2 separate regions of the Homo sapiens genome follow, and region 1 is linked to region 2. Evidence: fine-mapped expression QTL. Tissue or cell type: prefrontal cortex. Region 2 holds a variant in brackets; the other region holds the start of a gene. All regions are shown on one strand. Distances are between the middles of the regions.

The links. PIP is the estimated chance that this variant, and not a neighbour inherited with it, causes the effect.
Region 1: it holds the start of CRADD, and the variant in region 2 is fine-mapped to the expression of CRADD in prefrontal cortex (ROSMAP, PIP 0.93).

The regions. Positions count from the first base shown.
Region 1 is chr12:93,673,780-93,681,885 of GRCh38, forward strand. CRADD (CARD and death domain containing adaptor protein) reads left to right here and starts at 3,596. Exons shown (of 3, transcript NM_003805.5): 1 at 3,596-3,693; 2 at 4,990-5,293. The coding sequence starts at 4,996. RefSeq lists enhancers at 2,837-3,652, 3,441-3,680, 3,653-4,467, 5,284-6,098.
Region 2 is chr12:93,845,025-93,853,130 of GRCh38, forward strand. It overlaps CRADD (CARD and death domain containing adaptor protein), which reads left to right. Exons shown (of 3, transcript NM_003805.5): 3 at 4,946-5,732. The coding sequence ends at 5,247. Among named protein-coding and RNA genes, the nearest start is that of CRADD-AS1, 110 kb to the left of the region's middle. RefSeq lists a silencer at 2,970-3,019 and an enhancer at 3,936-4,035. The variant C/T (reference allele first, on the strand shown) is at 5,053.

The DNA of each region.
Region 1 (8,106 bases), 170 kb before region 2:
AAAAGACTCTGGTTTTCCCCATGACTTAATTTCTACATCAATGAAACAGGAAGAACCAAAACATCCAATTCCTTTTATTTATTTTTTGAAGGCTGCAAAACCAAAGACCAAACCGAAAGAGAAAAATACTGCATTTGTTCTTTTTGACTCTTTATTTTGCAAACTCACAATAGGGATATCTTGACACAAGTAAACATACTAGGGGAGAGAGAAAAATGAAAATATCTGTCCTTCCTGTGGATTCGTTACCACTGGGTAACAGGTGCTTAATCCTCCGTGGGGGCACAATTTCAGATTACAGAGGGTCTGGCCAGAGCGGAGGAGTAACCACCTGTGATAATGATTCTGATCTGTGTTCCATTCCTTAGAAGCCCTCTGGCCTTAGCTAATCTGTCTAAGTAAAGTTGGGTCTTTGGTGTACTGCCATGAAGTATCGCTGTATGCTGAGGTGGGGTGGCTGATGGCAGTGGGCTAGTCGTTCAGCCTAGTTGCTTAAGAGACAGCATGGATCCTCATCTGTATTTGCCATGGGAAGAGGCATTCGATGATTAAAGACTTCACGCTGCAGATTTAAGTCAGATCTTTAATGGCCACCCTTTCAGGTTGTTTACCATAGGACGCCATGCCCCTCGGCTGCTGCCCTGACACTCTCCTGCTGTCTCTGGCTGCTTCTCTTCTGTGAACCCTCACGGATCCTATTGTTGGTTCCCCACCTCCTCCTGGGCATCATCATCAAGGCTCACCTTCTAGCTTCTAGGAGATCTCAAGCCTTTCCAAATATGATGAGTCATCAAGAAATATGAAACTTTATATGGGCGTTTATTGCGCTATTTGTTTCAACTTTCCTATATGTTTGAAATTTATCGAAGTTCACAGTTAGAAAAAAATCCACTTGCTTTTCCTCTCTAAAAAAGTTAGTATAGGTTGATGATCCCTTACCCAACATGCTTGGGACCAGAAGTGTTTTGGATTTTGGATTTTTTGGGATTTTGGAATATTTGCATATACATAATGAGGTAACTTGGGGATGGGACCCAAGTTTAAGCACAAAACTTATGTTTCATATATACTTTTTATACACATAGCCTGAAAGTAACTTTATACAATATTTTAAATAATTTTGCACATGAAACAAAGGTTTGTGTTTTGACTGAGACCCATCACATAAGGTCAGGTGTGGAATTTTCCACTTGTGGCGTCATGTTGACACCCAAAAAGCTTCAGGTTTTGGAGCATTTCTTTTTCTTTCTTTTTTTTTTTTTTTCTGAGACAGGGTCTCTCTCTGTCGCCCAGGCCGGAGTGCAGTGGCATGATCTTGTTTCACTGCAAACTCCACCTCCCGGGTTCAATTGATTCTCCACCTCAGCCTCCTGAGAAGCTGGGACTACAGGCGTACACAAGCATGGCTGGCTAATTTTTTGTATTTTTTGTAGAGATGGGATTTCCCTATGTTGCCCAGGCTGGCCCTGAACTCCTGGGCTCAAACGATCTGCCTGCCTTGGCTTCCCAAAATGCTGAGATTACAGGTGTCAGCCACCACTCTCAGGCAGGTTTTGGAGGATTCTGGATTTCAAATTTTTGTATTAGGGATGTTTAACCTGTAAACTTCAACGCTTGGCAGTGTTGCAAGTGGTCTGCACTTTATCTGGATGAAGACAAAGAATGGTGCTAACATTTGTCTATGAACAGATGGGAAATCTTGCTGAGGAAAGGACAATGATTCTCAAGCAAAAGGGGAAAAGGGAGAGAGAAAAGAGAGCACCTGGAACTCAAGAGTATCAAGAATGGGAGGTGGCAACAGGATGATTTGCAAATAATATTTGGCTATCATTAGAACAATAAACTCTTCACTATACAAGGTTGTATGGTGTATTGGAAAGAGCATGAAATCAGAGAAACTTCATTAGACTTCAAGTTTTGCTCTATATTAGCTGTGAGATTTTGCCTAAGACAATTGACCATTCTGATTCCACAGTCTTTATACATGCAAATGCTAAAACAGTTGTAACAGTGGAGATACATTGTGAAAAATGTGTCATTGTGCAAACAAAATAGGATGTACTTATGCAAACCTAGATGGTATAGCCTACTACATACTTAGGCCATATAGCATAGCCTATTGCTCTGACCACCATCATATATGCAGTCTGTCATTGACCCAAATATTGTTATGCAATGCATGACTGTAATAATAATAATACTTGCCACATAGGTAAAAATACTGTCATTAACGGTGTAGTAAAATGGTAACTGGCATAGTAATGCTGTAAATTGAATACAATTTTTAGAAGGTTTTGAGGAGGGAGGTTCAGAACTGTTCTCCATTGATTTGCTTAACAAAGATATTTTCATTTTCCACCAAAGGGTTTGGCTGTGAAAACCTTTGCAGAAATAATATTTTAGGAGTTTTTTCCCCCTGTACTGTCAACTGATTTTTAGTAAGCATATGACTTTCTGTATGTATCATCCAATTGATTTAAAAATGAATCAATGAATGTATTTATTGATCGCCTGCCTCGCTTCACAAAGGAATGTGAGGAAGGACACCCAATTTGGCATTGCTGTGTTTCTCTGTATTTGGGTCATGCATTTTTTCTTGCTTTCCACATTGAAAATGTGGTGGATGCAGTAGATTGGCTTTAAGTGTCAGGCCTTCCCTCATTTACTATACCTTTTTGTGTTTCACAAGCTGGAAAGCTACCAACTACATGCTCTAGACATCCTTGCTGCTAATATTCTGCATGTCAGATTGGTCTCACCAATGGCACGCAGCAAAGCAAGATTTGCAGGTGCTGTTTTCTTGCTGCTGGCAAATGCAGCCGTGGAGACCACCGTTTTTTGCAGCACTGTTCCAGTGTCCTGTTAATTGTTCTGTCGGTGTTGAGAGGAGGTTGGGGACCAGGCATGGCAACTTCCTGACGCCATCTTCCTGATTGTGGGCAGCAGCCACAATCAGCAATCTTATCTAGGTAGTCATCCATGGATGTTCAGCTCAGCCCTTCTCCAGCCTTTCCAATGATTTCGAATGTCCCCAATTCCCCCTAACGAATCCCTTTCTGACTAGGAGTAACTAGCTGAGTGCTGCAATGAAATCCTGACTGACAGATTTGTAAACTCTTTGCGGGCAGGAACCCTTGATATAAATAAATGACCTTGCATTTTAATGGAGGGAAGCAGAAGGATAAACAAATGAATAAGTGAAAAGTTTTAATAAGATGGTGATGCGTAAAAAATAAAGCTGGTTAATGGGGAGTGCAGGAAATGAGCGCAGCTGTCTTGCCGTTTTAATCAGATAGGTCAGAGAAGGCTTCTCTACTAGGGTGGCTTTTGACCTGCCTCTCTGTTAGGTCAATTGTGTGCGAGGCCCTGATGGAGTTACTGTGTTAAAATGCAATGATTCAATTACTCCATTACTTAGATACCCTTTAAGTGACACTACGGTTGTCCATCTCCCCGCTATTGAATTGTTTACCCACAGTAAGCATGGCGGGAAGAGCTTCGATCCGACCCTTGAACGCTCAATAAAAATGGCGACAGCACTTCCTGTACTTGCCCTCAACAAAGATGGTGTCAACACTTCCTGTTTAGGGTTTTCGCCATTAACAAAGATGGTGCTTATGGGGCAGGTTCCCTAACAGTCAGGATTCCGGTTGCAGTTTTTCTCCCCCGCCCCAAAGATACGTGGTTGCAGACGTAAGTAACAGGAATCCATCTTTCTTTGAAAGTCCTGCATTGTAGCGTCTGCGACCTGGGCCCTGCGGGGGCTTCCCCGCCCCGCTAACTTGCTCCGCATTTCCGATCCGGGCCAAGGCTGGGTGGCTGCGGCAGTGCCGGAGGCCCGCTCTCCCCTTGGTCCGCTCTTTAGTTCATTCCCAGCACTCCCTCTTTAGCGGGTCAAGTTGCCGCAGAAACCGCCCGTAGTCTTCCTGTTTGATACAAGGGTTTCAGCGGCCGAAGCAGAGCCTTTTTAAATAGTTCCCAATGGGCGCTCACGGCCAAACGTGAACACCTCCCCTCCTCACCTGTCACCTCCTGAACTTTACAGGGTTGCGAGGGGGAGTGTGGGATCGGGTGTCGCCTAGCCGTGGTCGTACTGCCCGGGTGTGTCTGAAGCCCCATCTGTCATCCCTGCCTGCCTTCCCGGTCACTTAACCTTCACTGCCTTACACACAACCAAGCCACAGCACACTGGTGCAGGGGTGGTGGAACTGCACCTTCAAATCGTGCCTGGCTACTGACCAGTGCTGGGGTGTGTGCTTTTTTTGAAAGAAAAAAATCCCATAAAATGTCCCATGCATGTGCGGCCACGACAGTGTTGTGCTGGAGATTCGGAATTCTTAGTGGGAAGGAATGGAGTCTGTGACTGTATATTGTGTAAAGTTTATTGTAGACTGGGCACAAACAACAATTTTCTTAAAGGTGATCGTGTAGAGGACTTTTAGCGAAAAGAGCCTTAAATTCTGAACCTGCTGATTTCTGTCCTGCACTCCTATTACTGATCAGGTTTTGCAAATACTTGTGATCAAAAAAAGGGGACCTGCGTCCACCTTGGCAGTTTCTGCCTTGGTGGTGGTGGTGCAGGTCTGATGAGGGCAATGTGAAAATAAAACCACCATTTCTTCTCCAGCGTGTTAAAATTAGTGCTGCTCTGTAATCTTCAGATAAAAATTGCTTGTTCAGAAGGGTCTCTGACCCACTTTTTTTTTTTCTTTTTCCAAATTTCTTTATTGAACGAGGAATTGAGCTGGGACCCCATTGTGTGAAAAGCAGAAACAGAAAAGATGATTCATCTTCATTGTTGTTCATTATGTTAGGAAACATTCAAAATTAACCTGGCTTGGCTTAATCAGTGAATTAAATACCATGACCTGGCAGTCTGCTATGGTTTAAAGATGTGCTTGACCTGAAGGAACTTACATTGCAGTGACACTGTCTTTAGGGCCACATCAACATGTCTGTAATTTGAGCTGTGATTTTGGCTCTTTCCAGGGAGAAATGGAGGCCAGAGACAAACAAGTACTCCGCTCACTTCGCCTGGAGCTGGGTGCAGAGGTATTGGTGGAGGGACTGGTTCTTCAGTACCTCTACCAGGAAGGAATCTTGACGGAAAACCATATTCAAGAAATCAATGCTCAAACCACAGGCCTCCGGAAAACAATGCTCCTGCTGGATATCCTACCTTCCAGGGGCCCTAAAGCATTTGATACATTCCTAGATTCCCTACAGGAGTTTCCCTGGGTCAGGGAGAAGCTGAAGAAGGCAAGGGAAGAGGCCATGACCGACCTGCCTGCAGGTAGGCCTCAGAAAGATCACTTTGAACCAGCTCCAAAATGTTGTAACTATGCTCTTTGCTTTTTTGTTTATTTGTTTGTTTGTTTTTGAGACAGAGTCTTGCTCTGTTGCCCAGGCTGGAGTGCAATGGTGTGATCTCGGCTCACTGCAACCTCTGCTTCCTGGGTTCAAGCAATTCACTTGCTTCAGCCTCCCGAGTTGCTGGGAATACAGGCATTTGCCACCATGCCCTGCTAAGTTTTGTATTTTTAGTAGAGATGGGGTTTCATCATGTTGGCCAGGCTGGTCTCGAACTCCGTACCTCAGGTGATCCACCCACCTCCGCCTCCCAAAGTGCTGGGATTACAGACGTGAGCCACCACACCTAGCCAGAACTATGCCCTTTGGATTTGAAGTTGGGATGTAAGGCAGGACAAGGGTCAATGGTTGATGAAAGTGGGTAAGGATTTGGGACTGAAGGGACATGACGTTGGAGGAATAGGATCAGGAGGTGGCATTAGGAAGTGCAGGGAAGGAAGAATGAACCGTGACTGGGAGGTGAGGGAGGGAGCTCAGAGAATGCATTTAGAAATGCTTCCAGGAAACCTGGCATGTCACTTGGGAAGCATGTTCTCATCAGAGAGCCAGGTCATATCTCAGCCGTTGGCATCAGGAGCCATTTGGAAAGTGCAGATGGGAAAGCAGGCATTCGGCCTACTGACAACTGATTTGTGAGGTGCCAGAGCTACCAGCTGGAAAAGGTCAGATTCATGGAGGAGGAGACAGCCTCTAGGAAGGCATGCCCTGCACCTGTCCCCTGGGCTGTCCTGTGTGGCCAAAGGGGATTATTTTGAAGGCTGACTTAGTTTGTTTTTAAAGGTTATTCGTTTAAAGTGTCCTTTTTAGTTTAGCTTTGTTCAGACACTGGAGTATTTAATTTTGCAAAGAGCAATAGTTTGGGGAGGGTCTCAGTTTAATTTGAAGGAGAATTGGAAGCTGGAGAAGAGAGAAACAGTTCTGGTTCTGTTAGCCTGGCTTGTAGCAGGAAGAAGATGTGATATGGAAACACTTGCTTTTTCTTAACCTCCCTTGACTCTGTTTCACAAAGATAGAGGGGCAGAGAACTGAACTGGCAAAAATTAAAAATTGAAAAAAAAAAGTAATTGAAAGTTGGCTTGCAAATTTTTAACAAAGTTAGAGAATCAAGGTTCTCTGGGGTTTCTGATAAGAGTGATAGAACTATTCCGGTTCAGTGGGCCCCAGACTTCGTGGTTGCTATTTTTTAAATACTGGTTAAAAAAAATGAATACTGATAATAAGACCACTTTTACTATTTTTGCTCCATGGACCTCATATTTTGACATATGTCTGAATACCTGATCAGCATGACATAGCCAGCTAACTTTAGGAAGACCTGGTAAGATCCCAGTGGAAAAAGCAAAAGTATTTTCATTCCTAGTCTGGGCTCGTTACAGTTAAATGTATCTTTAGGCTTTTTGAAATATTAGACATAGCTGGCTTTTGAGGACCACTGGAATTCACTGCTTGGATTGTCCTTACAAAATTAAATACTCCACATGTCTGAACAAAATGTATCTAGATGTTTTTATGACTTTATTGAAAGCAGAATAGATAACATAGAGTTGGAGAAATGTTAAAAAATTATTGGTGTTTTCCTGATATTTGACTTAGAGGTTTCTGCTGGCATCATATAGTTGGAAACAACAAAACAGGTGAACTGAAAGCCTTTCACTATCAAAATACTGAATTTAATTTTATGGTCATTTTGGGTGATACAGATCATGCTGTTGTATGTCATTCGTAGAGGTATAATACCATTTTTTTTTTTTTGAGACGGAGTTTCACTCTTGTTGCCCAGGCTGGAGTGCAATGGCGCGATCTCGGCTCTCTGCAACCTCTGCCTCCCGGGTTTAAGCAATTCTTCTGCCTCAGCCTCCCGAGTAGCTGGGATTACAGGCATGTGCCACCATGCTCGGCTAATTTTGTATTTTTAGTAGAGATGGGGTTTCTCCATGTTGGTCAGGCTGGTCTTAAACTCCCGACCTCAGGTGATCCGCCCACCTCGGCCTCCCAAAGTGCTGGGATTACAGGCGTGAGCCACCATGCTCGGCCATAACCCCATTATTTCTTCAGATTCATTCAGAGAGTTAGAAAGAATTAAGGCATTTTTTACAAAATGATGAGAGTTACAGAGAAGCTGAGGAAAAATAGCTTTTTAAAAAAGCAAACAGAATGAAGCAGTACATAATGGGAAAAAAATTGAGCATATCTGTGTAGAAGTTTAGAAAAATAAGGTTTTTCTCAAGATTTGTTAATTCTGTAGAAGGTTGGCTCTGGAACAAATTCGTACAGTCATCTTAATTGTTTTACTTTTTACTGAGTAACACTGCTATTGAAAAAAACATTCTGAAGTGAGGGTTTGATTTATATATGTCTTTGAATACCTTCCACGGTGACAATCACATAAACTCTTTTAAAAAAGACTTGTATTTATTAAATATTGACTATTTTAAATAATATTACAAAATATAAGTAAGATATGGAGAATAATGGTACAGCGAACACCCGTCTCCTCATCACTCAGTTTAAGAAAAATAATATTACGATTGCCTTTAAAAACCCCGGGCACTCCTTCCCAATCTTGTCTCATTCCCAACCCCCACGCAGTGAAAAGCCCTGAATTGGGGGTTTATCATTCATTCACTTCTTCACTTTATAGTTTCCTATCTCCTAAAAATCACTTTTAAAATCTTCATATGTTTTTGAAAATCCTGTATACCGTAAGTTCTAGAGGTGTGTGTGTGTGTATATGTA
Region 2 (8,106 bases):
ACCTGGGGAGGCCATCTCCTAGTCTCTGTGTTGAGTTACAGGAAAGAGACCATAGGAGTGAGTCTGCCCTGGTTTGGCAGAGTGGGCCCTGGTCTAAGACATTTAACTCCCCTCCAAAAGAGGACAGAGTATAGAGCCCCCAAGGACAGGCCTCATGACTCCTGCCTCTCCTCCATGGCAGAAGTGTTCATGGAAAGCAGCAGCCAACCTAAAGTTGTAGCTCAGAGGTAGAACGACACCTGGTTCCCTATAAAGTGAGGAGAGTGTCAAAAGATACATCAGCTTGCTCTGGGAGAGCAAAGAGCAGTTCTGGACAGAGATGTTCACGTTATAAGTATGAACAAGATGGCAGTGAGTGTCATGACTGTTCTGTGAAATGCTGCAGCAGAGGAATGCAAGAGAGGAGCACAGCTTGTTGGCTGAGCACAGTGGTTCACACCTGTAATCCCAAAACTTTGGGAGGCTGGGTCACGAGGATCAGTTGAGGCCAGGAGTTTGAGACCAGCCTGGGCAACACAGCAAGACCCTGTCTCTATTAAATATATATATATATATTTTTAATAAAGAAAAGAAAGGAACACAGCTTGCAAAAATAAACATACAACCAATCTGGTCTATAAGAAAACCCAGTCCTAGAAAACTCAACCTCACAAGTATTTTATGCTATAGAAAGACTCAGCATCAATTGAGTAGAAACAAAAACTCAAGATGTCATCATGATAAAACAACAATGGGATTCTTTTAATTTTTATTTTTAATTGTGGTAAAATGTACATAACATAGAATTTGCCATTGTAACCATTTTTAAATGTACAATTCAGTTGTGTTAAGTACCTTCACATTGTTTTATAACCAATCTCCAAAAGTCTTCATCTTTCAAAACTGGAACTCTGTACCCATTAAACAATAATTCCCCATTTCTCCCTCCCCCACCCCCTGGCAACCAGCATTCTGCTTTCTGTATCTGAATTCGACAACTCCAAGTACCTCATATGAATAGAATCAGAAAGTATTTGTCCTTTTGTGACTGGCTTATTTTACTTAGTGTAATGTCCTCAAGATTCATCCATGTTGGATCATGTGTCAGAATTTCCATCCTTTTTAAGGCTGAATAATATTCTATTGTATGTCTCTGACATTTTGCGTATCCATTCATCCAGTGGATACTCAGTTTGCTTCCACCTTTGGCTATTGTGAATAACGCTGCTATGAACATAGGTGTACGAATTTCTCTTTGAGTCCCTGCATTCAATTCTTTTGAGTATATACCCAGAAGTGGGATTGCTGGATCATATGCTAATTCTATTTTTAAATTTTTGAGGAACTGCCATACTGTTTTCCACAGCACCTGCACCATTTTCCATTCCCACCAATAGTGCACAAGGGTTCCAATTTCTCCACACCCTTGCCAACATTTGGGACTTACTGTTTTTTGTTTTGTTTTGTTTTGTTTTGATAGTAGCTCTCCTAATGAGTGTGAAGTGGAATGGATTTTTTAAAAGATAGAGCCAAGAAAAGAAATAAAGAACAAAAACACAATACAACGTTAAAACCAGAACACACACACACACACACACACACACACACACACACACACACACGATGGACATAGCTGAAAATCAAAGAGTGAGATAATCCCAAGGAGGGGATTAAAGCAATAAGGACAATATAACAGCCATGGAGGAGAGGCACAGCCATCCAGCATATGGAGCAAGAAAAGAATGCAACCATGTGACCCAGGAAGATTTTCCCAAAAGGAAGAAACAACTGAATCTTTGGTTAGAAGGTTATGCCAGCCAGGCACAGTGGCTCACGCCTGTAGTCCCAGCACTCTGGGAGGCTGAGGCAGGCGGATCACAAGGTCAGGAGATCGAGACCATCCTGGCTAACACAGTGAAACCCCATCTCTACTAAAAATACAAAAAAAAATTAGCCAGGCATGGTAGTAGGCACCTGTAGTCCCAGCTGCTCCGGAGACTGAGGCAGAAGAATGGCATGAACCCAGGAGGCAGAGCTTGCAGTGAGCTGAGATCACGCCACTGCACTCCAGCCTGGATGACAGAGCGAGACTCCGTCTCAGAAAAAAAGAAGGTTATGCCACATATCTGAAAGTGCAGATGTAGAATGGATAACATATACCCTGGTCTAAAGTTTCAGTATTTAGACCTCAGACAGGAAAAGCAAGTTACACAAAATACTGGATGACTAAGTTGGTATCAGAATTCTCCACATCAGCAACCCCTACCATAAAGTACGAACAAGGTCTACAAACTTTTAAGGGAAATAACATTATTTAAATAATATAATTTAAAATTATGAATATAATTTTATATTATACTGTTAAGAATATAAAAAGATAAAAATAATATAAAATTGTTCTCTAAATATTAAGTTATTATTCCAGTGAAGGCAATAAGCAGGATGCCTTGACCTGAAAGAAGTCAAGAGACTATGGCAGTCATGAGCATTGCTTGAAAAAAAAAAAAAAAAAAAAAAACCTCCCTGTGATGAAATTGACCCAAATGACTCAAATCAGAAGAACAGACCCAGGAGTAGAAAAGCCACAGATGAAGAACAGTAACAACAGCAACAACAACAAAACACTGGTGAGCATTCAACCATTACAATGCCACCTTAGGACTAAACAATGGGGCAAGGGGGCATGGATGATTGTTAAAGAAATGTATAACTATTAGGCATCTGGCAAAATAAAAATTATGTAAGTGAAAAAAAATCAAGTGTGAGGAAGTGGAGAGGAAATGTAAAGTAATTATAGAGTATTTCTATAAAAACATGCAGTTAACCCTTGAGTTTTCGTAACTTTTTTCTGTGCATTAAATTGTGTGTGTGTATGTTTTCAAGTATGTTAACTTGTAACCGCTGGTCAGAATGTCATTTTGTTTCACTTCTGCTTTTTCTTCTGTTACATCCAAACAAAATTACATAGCTCTTACTGGAAAGAAAAGGTCATATGTTATCATTTTAAATGAACCCATTACCCTCTATCTAGCCTTCTACCAGTGTATGTGCATACAGAGATATCCAGAATGATGGTCACCAACTGTAAACACAATAGCGGGATATTGGATGATTTCTTTTCTTCTTTGCGCTGTTTTCTGTTGCTTTATTTTTTTTTTAATGAGCCTATGTTTTTATACAAGCCGTAAAATCATTGCTGTTAATCTCAACTATTGATCAGTAGTGTCATCAGTATTCTAATTGCGTCATAGTCATTGTTTTTTAAATTGTAGTGTTGACAAACACCAGAAAGAGCCCTTGACAATATTTTTGCAACTCATCTCTAAGGTGCTGGCCGCTGCCCAGAGGCCAAAGACATGGGCTGTGGAAAACATCAGCTCTTGTAATAAGGTGCCTTTGCCTTCTTATTGAATCATAAATCAAAACACAATAGTGGACTGATGAGCATGAAGTAGACTGACCTGAATCCCTGTGATGCTGATGGATGGGAGTATAGTGTACTGTGCTGTCAAACAAATGTCTGAACCTAGCAAATGACTTTGGATGTTTGGAGTCCGTCTCAATCTCTGCACTTGGCTGCTGTGAGTGCCTTTCACTTCCTCCATTGCGATTCTCCTGCCTCTGGGCCTTTGCACATGCAATTCTCTCTTCTCGAGATGCGCCACGCCCTGTTCCTCCTTCATCACCCAGCTCCTCCTCCTAGTGTTCAGGGCTTAGCTTTAGCCTCCTTCCCCTGGAAGGCCTTCCCTAATGAAGTTAGGAGCTCCTCTGTATAACCAAAGGCACTGCTCACTGGTTTTGCTGGGCACATTTATAACCATTCACTCAATGTCATGCTTCTTAGCAGACTGGCCTCAGGCAAATAAGAATCTAGTTCAGGAAGTGTAAGGTCAGATTTCCTCGTTGCCCCGTCTCATACTTCCTGTTCCTCTTCTGGGCTCTGCCAGAACGGTAACTCCACTCTTGTGGCCTCTGCTATGAACAAACCCCGCTCTCTTCCCTTCCTGCTACCCTATGGCCTCTTAGGTTTATTTTGTTCTCAGCAGCCCTCTTGGCTCTGGCTTCTGTTAGCAGCTACACGTTTTCTCGGTAATATTTCAAGTTCAACCTCATCGGCGAGGGTAGCTGTTTGGTTTAGCCTTTGTCCTCTAGCACGTGCCTTTCCTGCAGGGAGGGGCATTCCCAGCCTTGGAACAGGCCCCATCACTAAGGCCACAGACAGTGCCAGAGGGAGCTGGGGTCTGTGCAGCCATTCTTGAATTCCCCCAGAATGCCTTGCCTGGCCTTGAGTAAAAGGGATAGAAGTGAAAAAAGCCTGTTACAAAGCAGCATGTACGAGGTAACCCTTCATGTGTGTTTTATATATCAAAGAAAATAGACTAGTTATTATCAATGAGTTTTTCTGGTGGGATTTCTAGTTATTTTTATTTTGTTGCTTTCAAAGTTTCTGTAACAGGCAGGGTGCTGTGGCTCACGCCTGTAATCCTAGCACTTTGGGAGGCCAAGGCAGGTGGATCACCTGAGGTCAGGAGTTCAAGACCAGCCTGGCCAACATGGTGAAACCCTGTCTCTGCTAAAAATACAAAAATTAGCTGGGCATGGTGGCAGTTGCCTGTAATCCCAGCTACTTGGGAGGCTGAAACAGGAGAATCACTTCAACCCAGGAGGTGGAGTTTGTAGTGAGCCAACATCATGCCATTGCTCTCCAGCCTGGGTGACAGAGTGAAACACCGTCTCAAAAAAAAAAAAAAAAAAAGTTTCTGTAAAAACATTTTCACAGATACTTAACAGCATTGAAGCCCTGAATCATGGCGTTGTACAGAGCAGCCCCCAGGAAGAAGACAAGAGCCAATTGGCTCTGCCATTTGGAAGCATTGCCTTCTTCTCCCCACGATTCTCATTTCTGCCCCCAAATGATGTGTTTGTTGCCTTGCTCATTTCACCGGGGTGTCTTTTTCCTCCTCAGGTGACAGATTGACTGGGATCCCCTCGCACATCCTCAACAGCTCCCCATCAGACCGGCAGATTAACCAGCTGGCCCAGAGGCTGGGCCCTGAGTGGGAGCCCATGGTG[C/T]TGTCTCTGGGACTGTCCCAGACGGATATCTACCGCTGTAAGGCCAACCACCCCCACAACGTGCAGTCGCAGGTGGTGGAGGCCTTCATCCGTTGGCGGCAGCGCTTCGGGAAGCAGGCCACCTTCCAGAGCCTGCACAACGGGCTGCGGGCTGTGGAGGTGGACCCCTCGCTGCTCCTGCACATGTTGGAGTGATGGTGCCTCCAGCAACCGCTGGGGAGTGTGTCCCTGAGTCATGTGGGCTGAATCCTGACTTTCACTCAGAGCAGGTGGTTTTTTGTGTAGGTTTGTTTTTTATTTTTGATGATCTTCAGATGGAAGGAGAAAACAGGGTTTCCACTAGACATTACTTGAAAGGCCAGATTACTCAGCAGATCTCCCATGTTGGCTCAACAATTCTTTGTTTTTAATTGCTTGAAGATTGCATTGTTGTAATTGTTCAGTTTTTAAATGTGTAATGGCATTTTAATAGACTAGTAAATCACAGTGGTTCAAAATATATATCCATATATATATATATCCATATATATATCTCATGTCATCACATTACAGGCAGGTGTCTCATATGTAAAACATTTACCTGAATGTTGTCTGAGGACTGAACTGTGGACTTTACTATTCATAATGATAAAATAATAAAATGCGAATTACTATATATAATGTGCCTCACTCATGAGAAAGTACCGTGTTGGGTTTTTTTTTTTCTTTCTCATTCCTGTGTTGCATAGATTAAGGGTGTAAAATTACAATAGTCTTTTTTTTCTTTTTGGAACAGAATTAATAGTAACAGTGAAATGGTTACTTTCCCAAGTCAGGATAAATAGCTCAGGCAGGATGTCTGTATTAAATATTGTAAGACACTAAAGCTCCCTGCAAAGACCAGTTCAAGGACCAGCATGCATACCCGAGCCCTTCATCTTTAAAAGATCGCTCGAGAAAATCCTGTGCTGTTTATTGAAAGCATTAAGTCAGGGGACGAGAGGGGGTGTGGTCTTTCCATTGAAGCCAGAATGACTGAAGTGTTGTGCTCCTAAGGAGTATGATTTAGTCTTCTGTCCTTTTATCAATAGCACATGGTGTTTATAGAATGCTTTACTGTTTTCACGGCTTTTCCTGTATGTGATCTCATTTGGACCTCTCAGCAATGCTGTGGGGCAGTGGGCAAGGTGGTTCACCTCCTTCTGTACAGAGATTGAGTGATTGGCCCAGGGTGAATGAGGTTGGGTGCCGGCTCCTGAGCCTTTCCAACTGCTCCACAGGGCTCCTCCCCTTCTCTCTTGCATGCTCATTGAAGAAGCTTGAATCCTGCTCCCCGCCTACTAGGTGTATGGCCTTGGACAAGTTACTTACCCTCTCTACACCTCAGTTTCCTCATTGGCAGAATGGGGAAATGATTGTACTCACCTCTGAGGTCTTTGTGATGATTAAAGCAATAATGTCCGCCAACAGCACATCCAGATGCAGCTCATTGTCAGCTTTCAGGAAATGGTAGCTGTTAATTTGCCGCCACTGTGGCTGAAGGTATGGTTAGACCACAGGCAAAGCTGAATAGTGGCTGAAAGCTGAGGGCACTGTGGGAGGAGCTACTATTGCCACATTTCTTACTAAGCTTTAAAATGGGATTTGATTTTATAAACTTTACAATGGGGCCAGTCTGTGATCTATCCTTCTTAATAATTACGGAATCTGTTTCCTAATTCTAACATAACTCAGGATTTTTCAAAAGGGAGAAAAAAATCATGTTTTTTATTTCTCTCCATTCCAAGAATAAATTTATGGAATGGTAGAATTGAGCACGAAGTGGGTACTTAAAAAGATGACAATAGTGTGTGGATAACATCCTTTCAGGCATCTTGTAACCATATTCCTGTTACTAAAAAAGAGCTGCTATGCCACAGTTTATTCTTCCAGTGAATTCGGTTCAAAAGGATAGTCTACTGGCCTTATCAGTTCAAATTTTTCATTTTGTAGCCCAGCCAATAATTCATTATCTTATAAAATTCTCATGCTTTTGGCCATATCACTGTGCCCAGTGATAGACTGTACTGCTGTGGCATCTTCAGTGAATCACTTGTCATTTTGAACCTGGGACTTATTACATTGCTGTCTTCCCCCTGGGTTTCCTAATAGAGAGTTGCTTTGGCTTTTGTTCTCACAGCTCAGAGTCACATTCATGGATGAGTGAGTAGAGCTGGGCTCTGCTGCGTCTGACTAGATGGCATTTTAGAAGCAGGTCTGATGATTAGCTGGGTCATCTTTCCGCCATTCACCATTTGCAAGGAATCTGTCACGCATAAAGACACTCGTGGGCTCTGTCAGCAGTGAGAGACAATTAGTGAAGAACAAGCCCACGATGGGCCAGACAGACAGGGCCGAGGGGGCCCTTAGAGACCTCTGACTTGTTGCCCTTCACAAGCAGAGTGTCTTCACCACCAAATGGCGGCAGCCCCTCCCTGGCCTGCTCACGTGCTTGCAGAAGATTTGCAGAGTGGAAGAACAGAGCAGCTGAATCCCTATCTTGGTACTACCTCTGGCCATGAAGAATAATGCTACATAGCAGCTGCCTACCTCCTAACAGAACTGGGGAGGTGAAGAGCCTGCAGGGATTTCCTGTGTTTGTATGGGAGAAGATTCTACAATTTCAGAGACTGTTTATCCCCAAGAAAACTGAATGAATGCAGCGAGGTGGCAAGAGCATTTGCCGGCACTGACAGAAAGTATATGAATATATAGTCTTGCACCACTTTGGGTTGGGTTGGAGTGTGTGTGTGTGTGTGTGTGTGTGTGTGCATATGCATGCATGAGTGTGGCCCTTCATGTTTTTAAAACTATAACTTTTATTAATTTTTTCAACATGAAGTACATGTTTATTATGGCAGTTTGAAAAAAAACACAATAAGATGAAGAAAAATAAGAATTACCCCTACTCCCATCTAAGCACTGTACATCCCAATTTTTATCCCTGTCCTCCAATTAGTTTTCTCTGCCTGCATATCCTTTTCATAAAAAGAATAGGATTTTCTCTGCATTTCCTTATAAAAAGTGTTATATTTT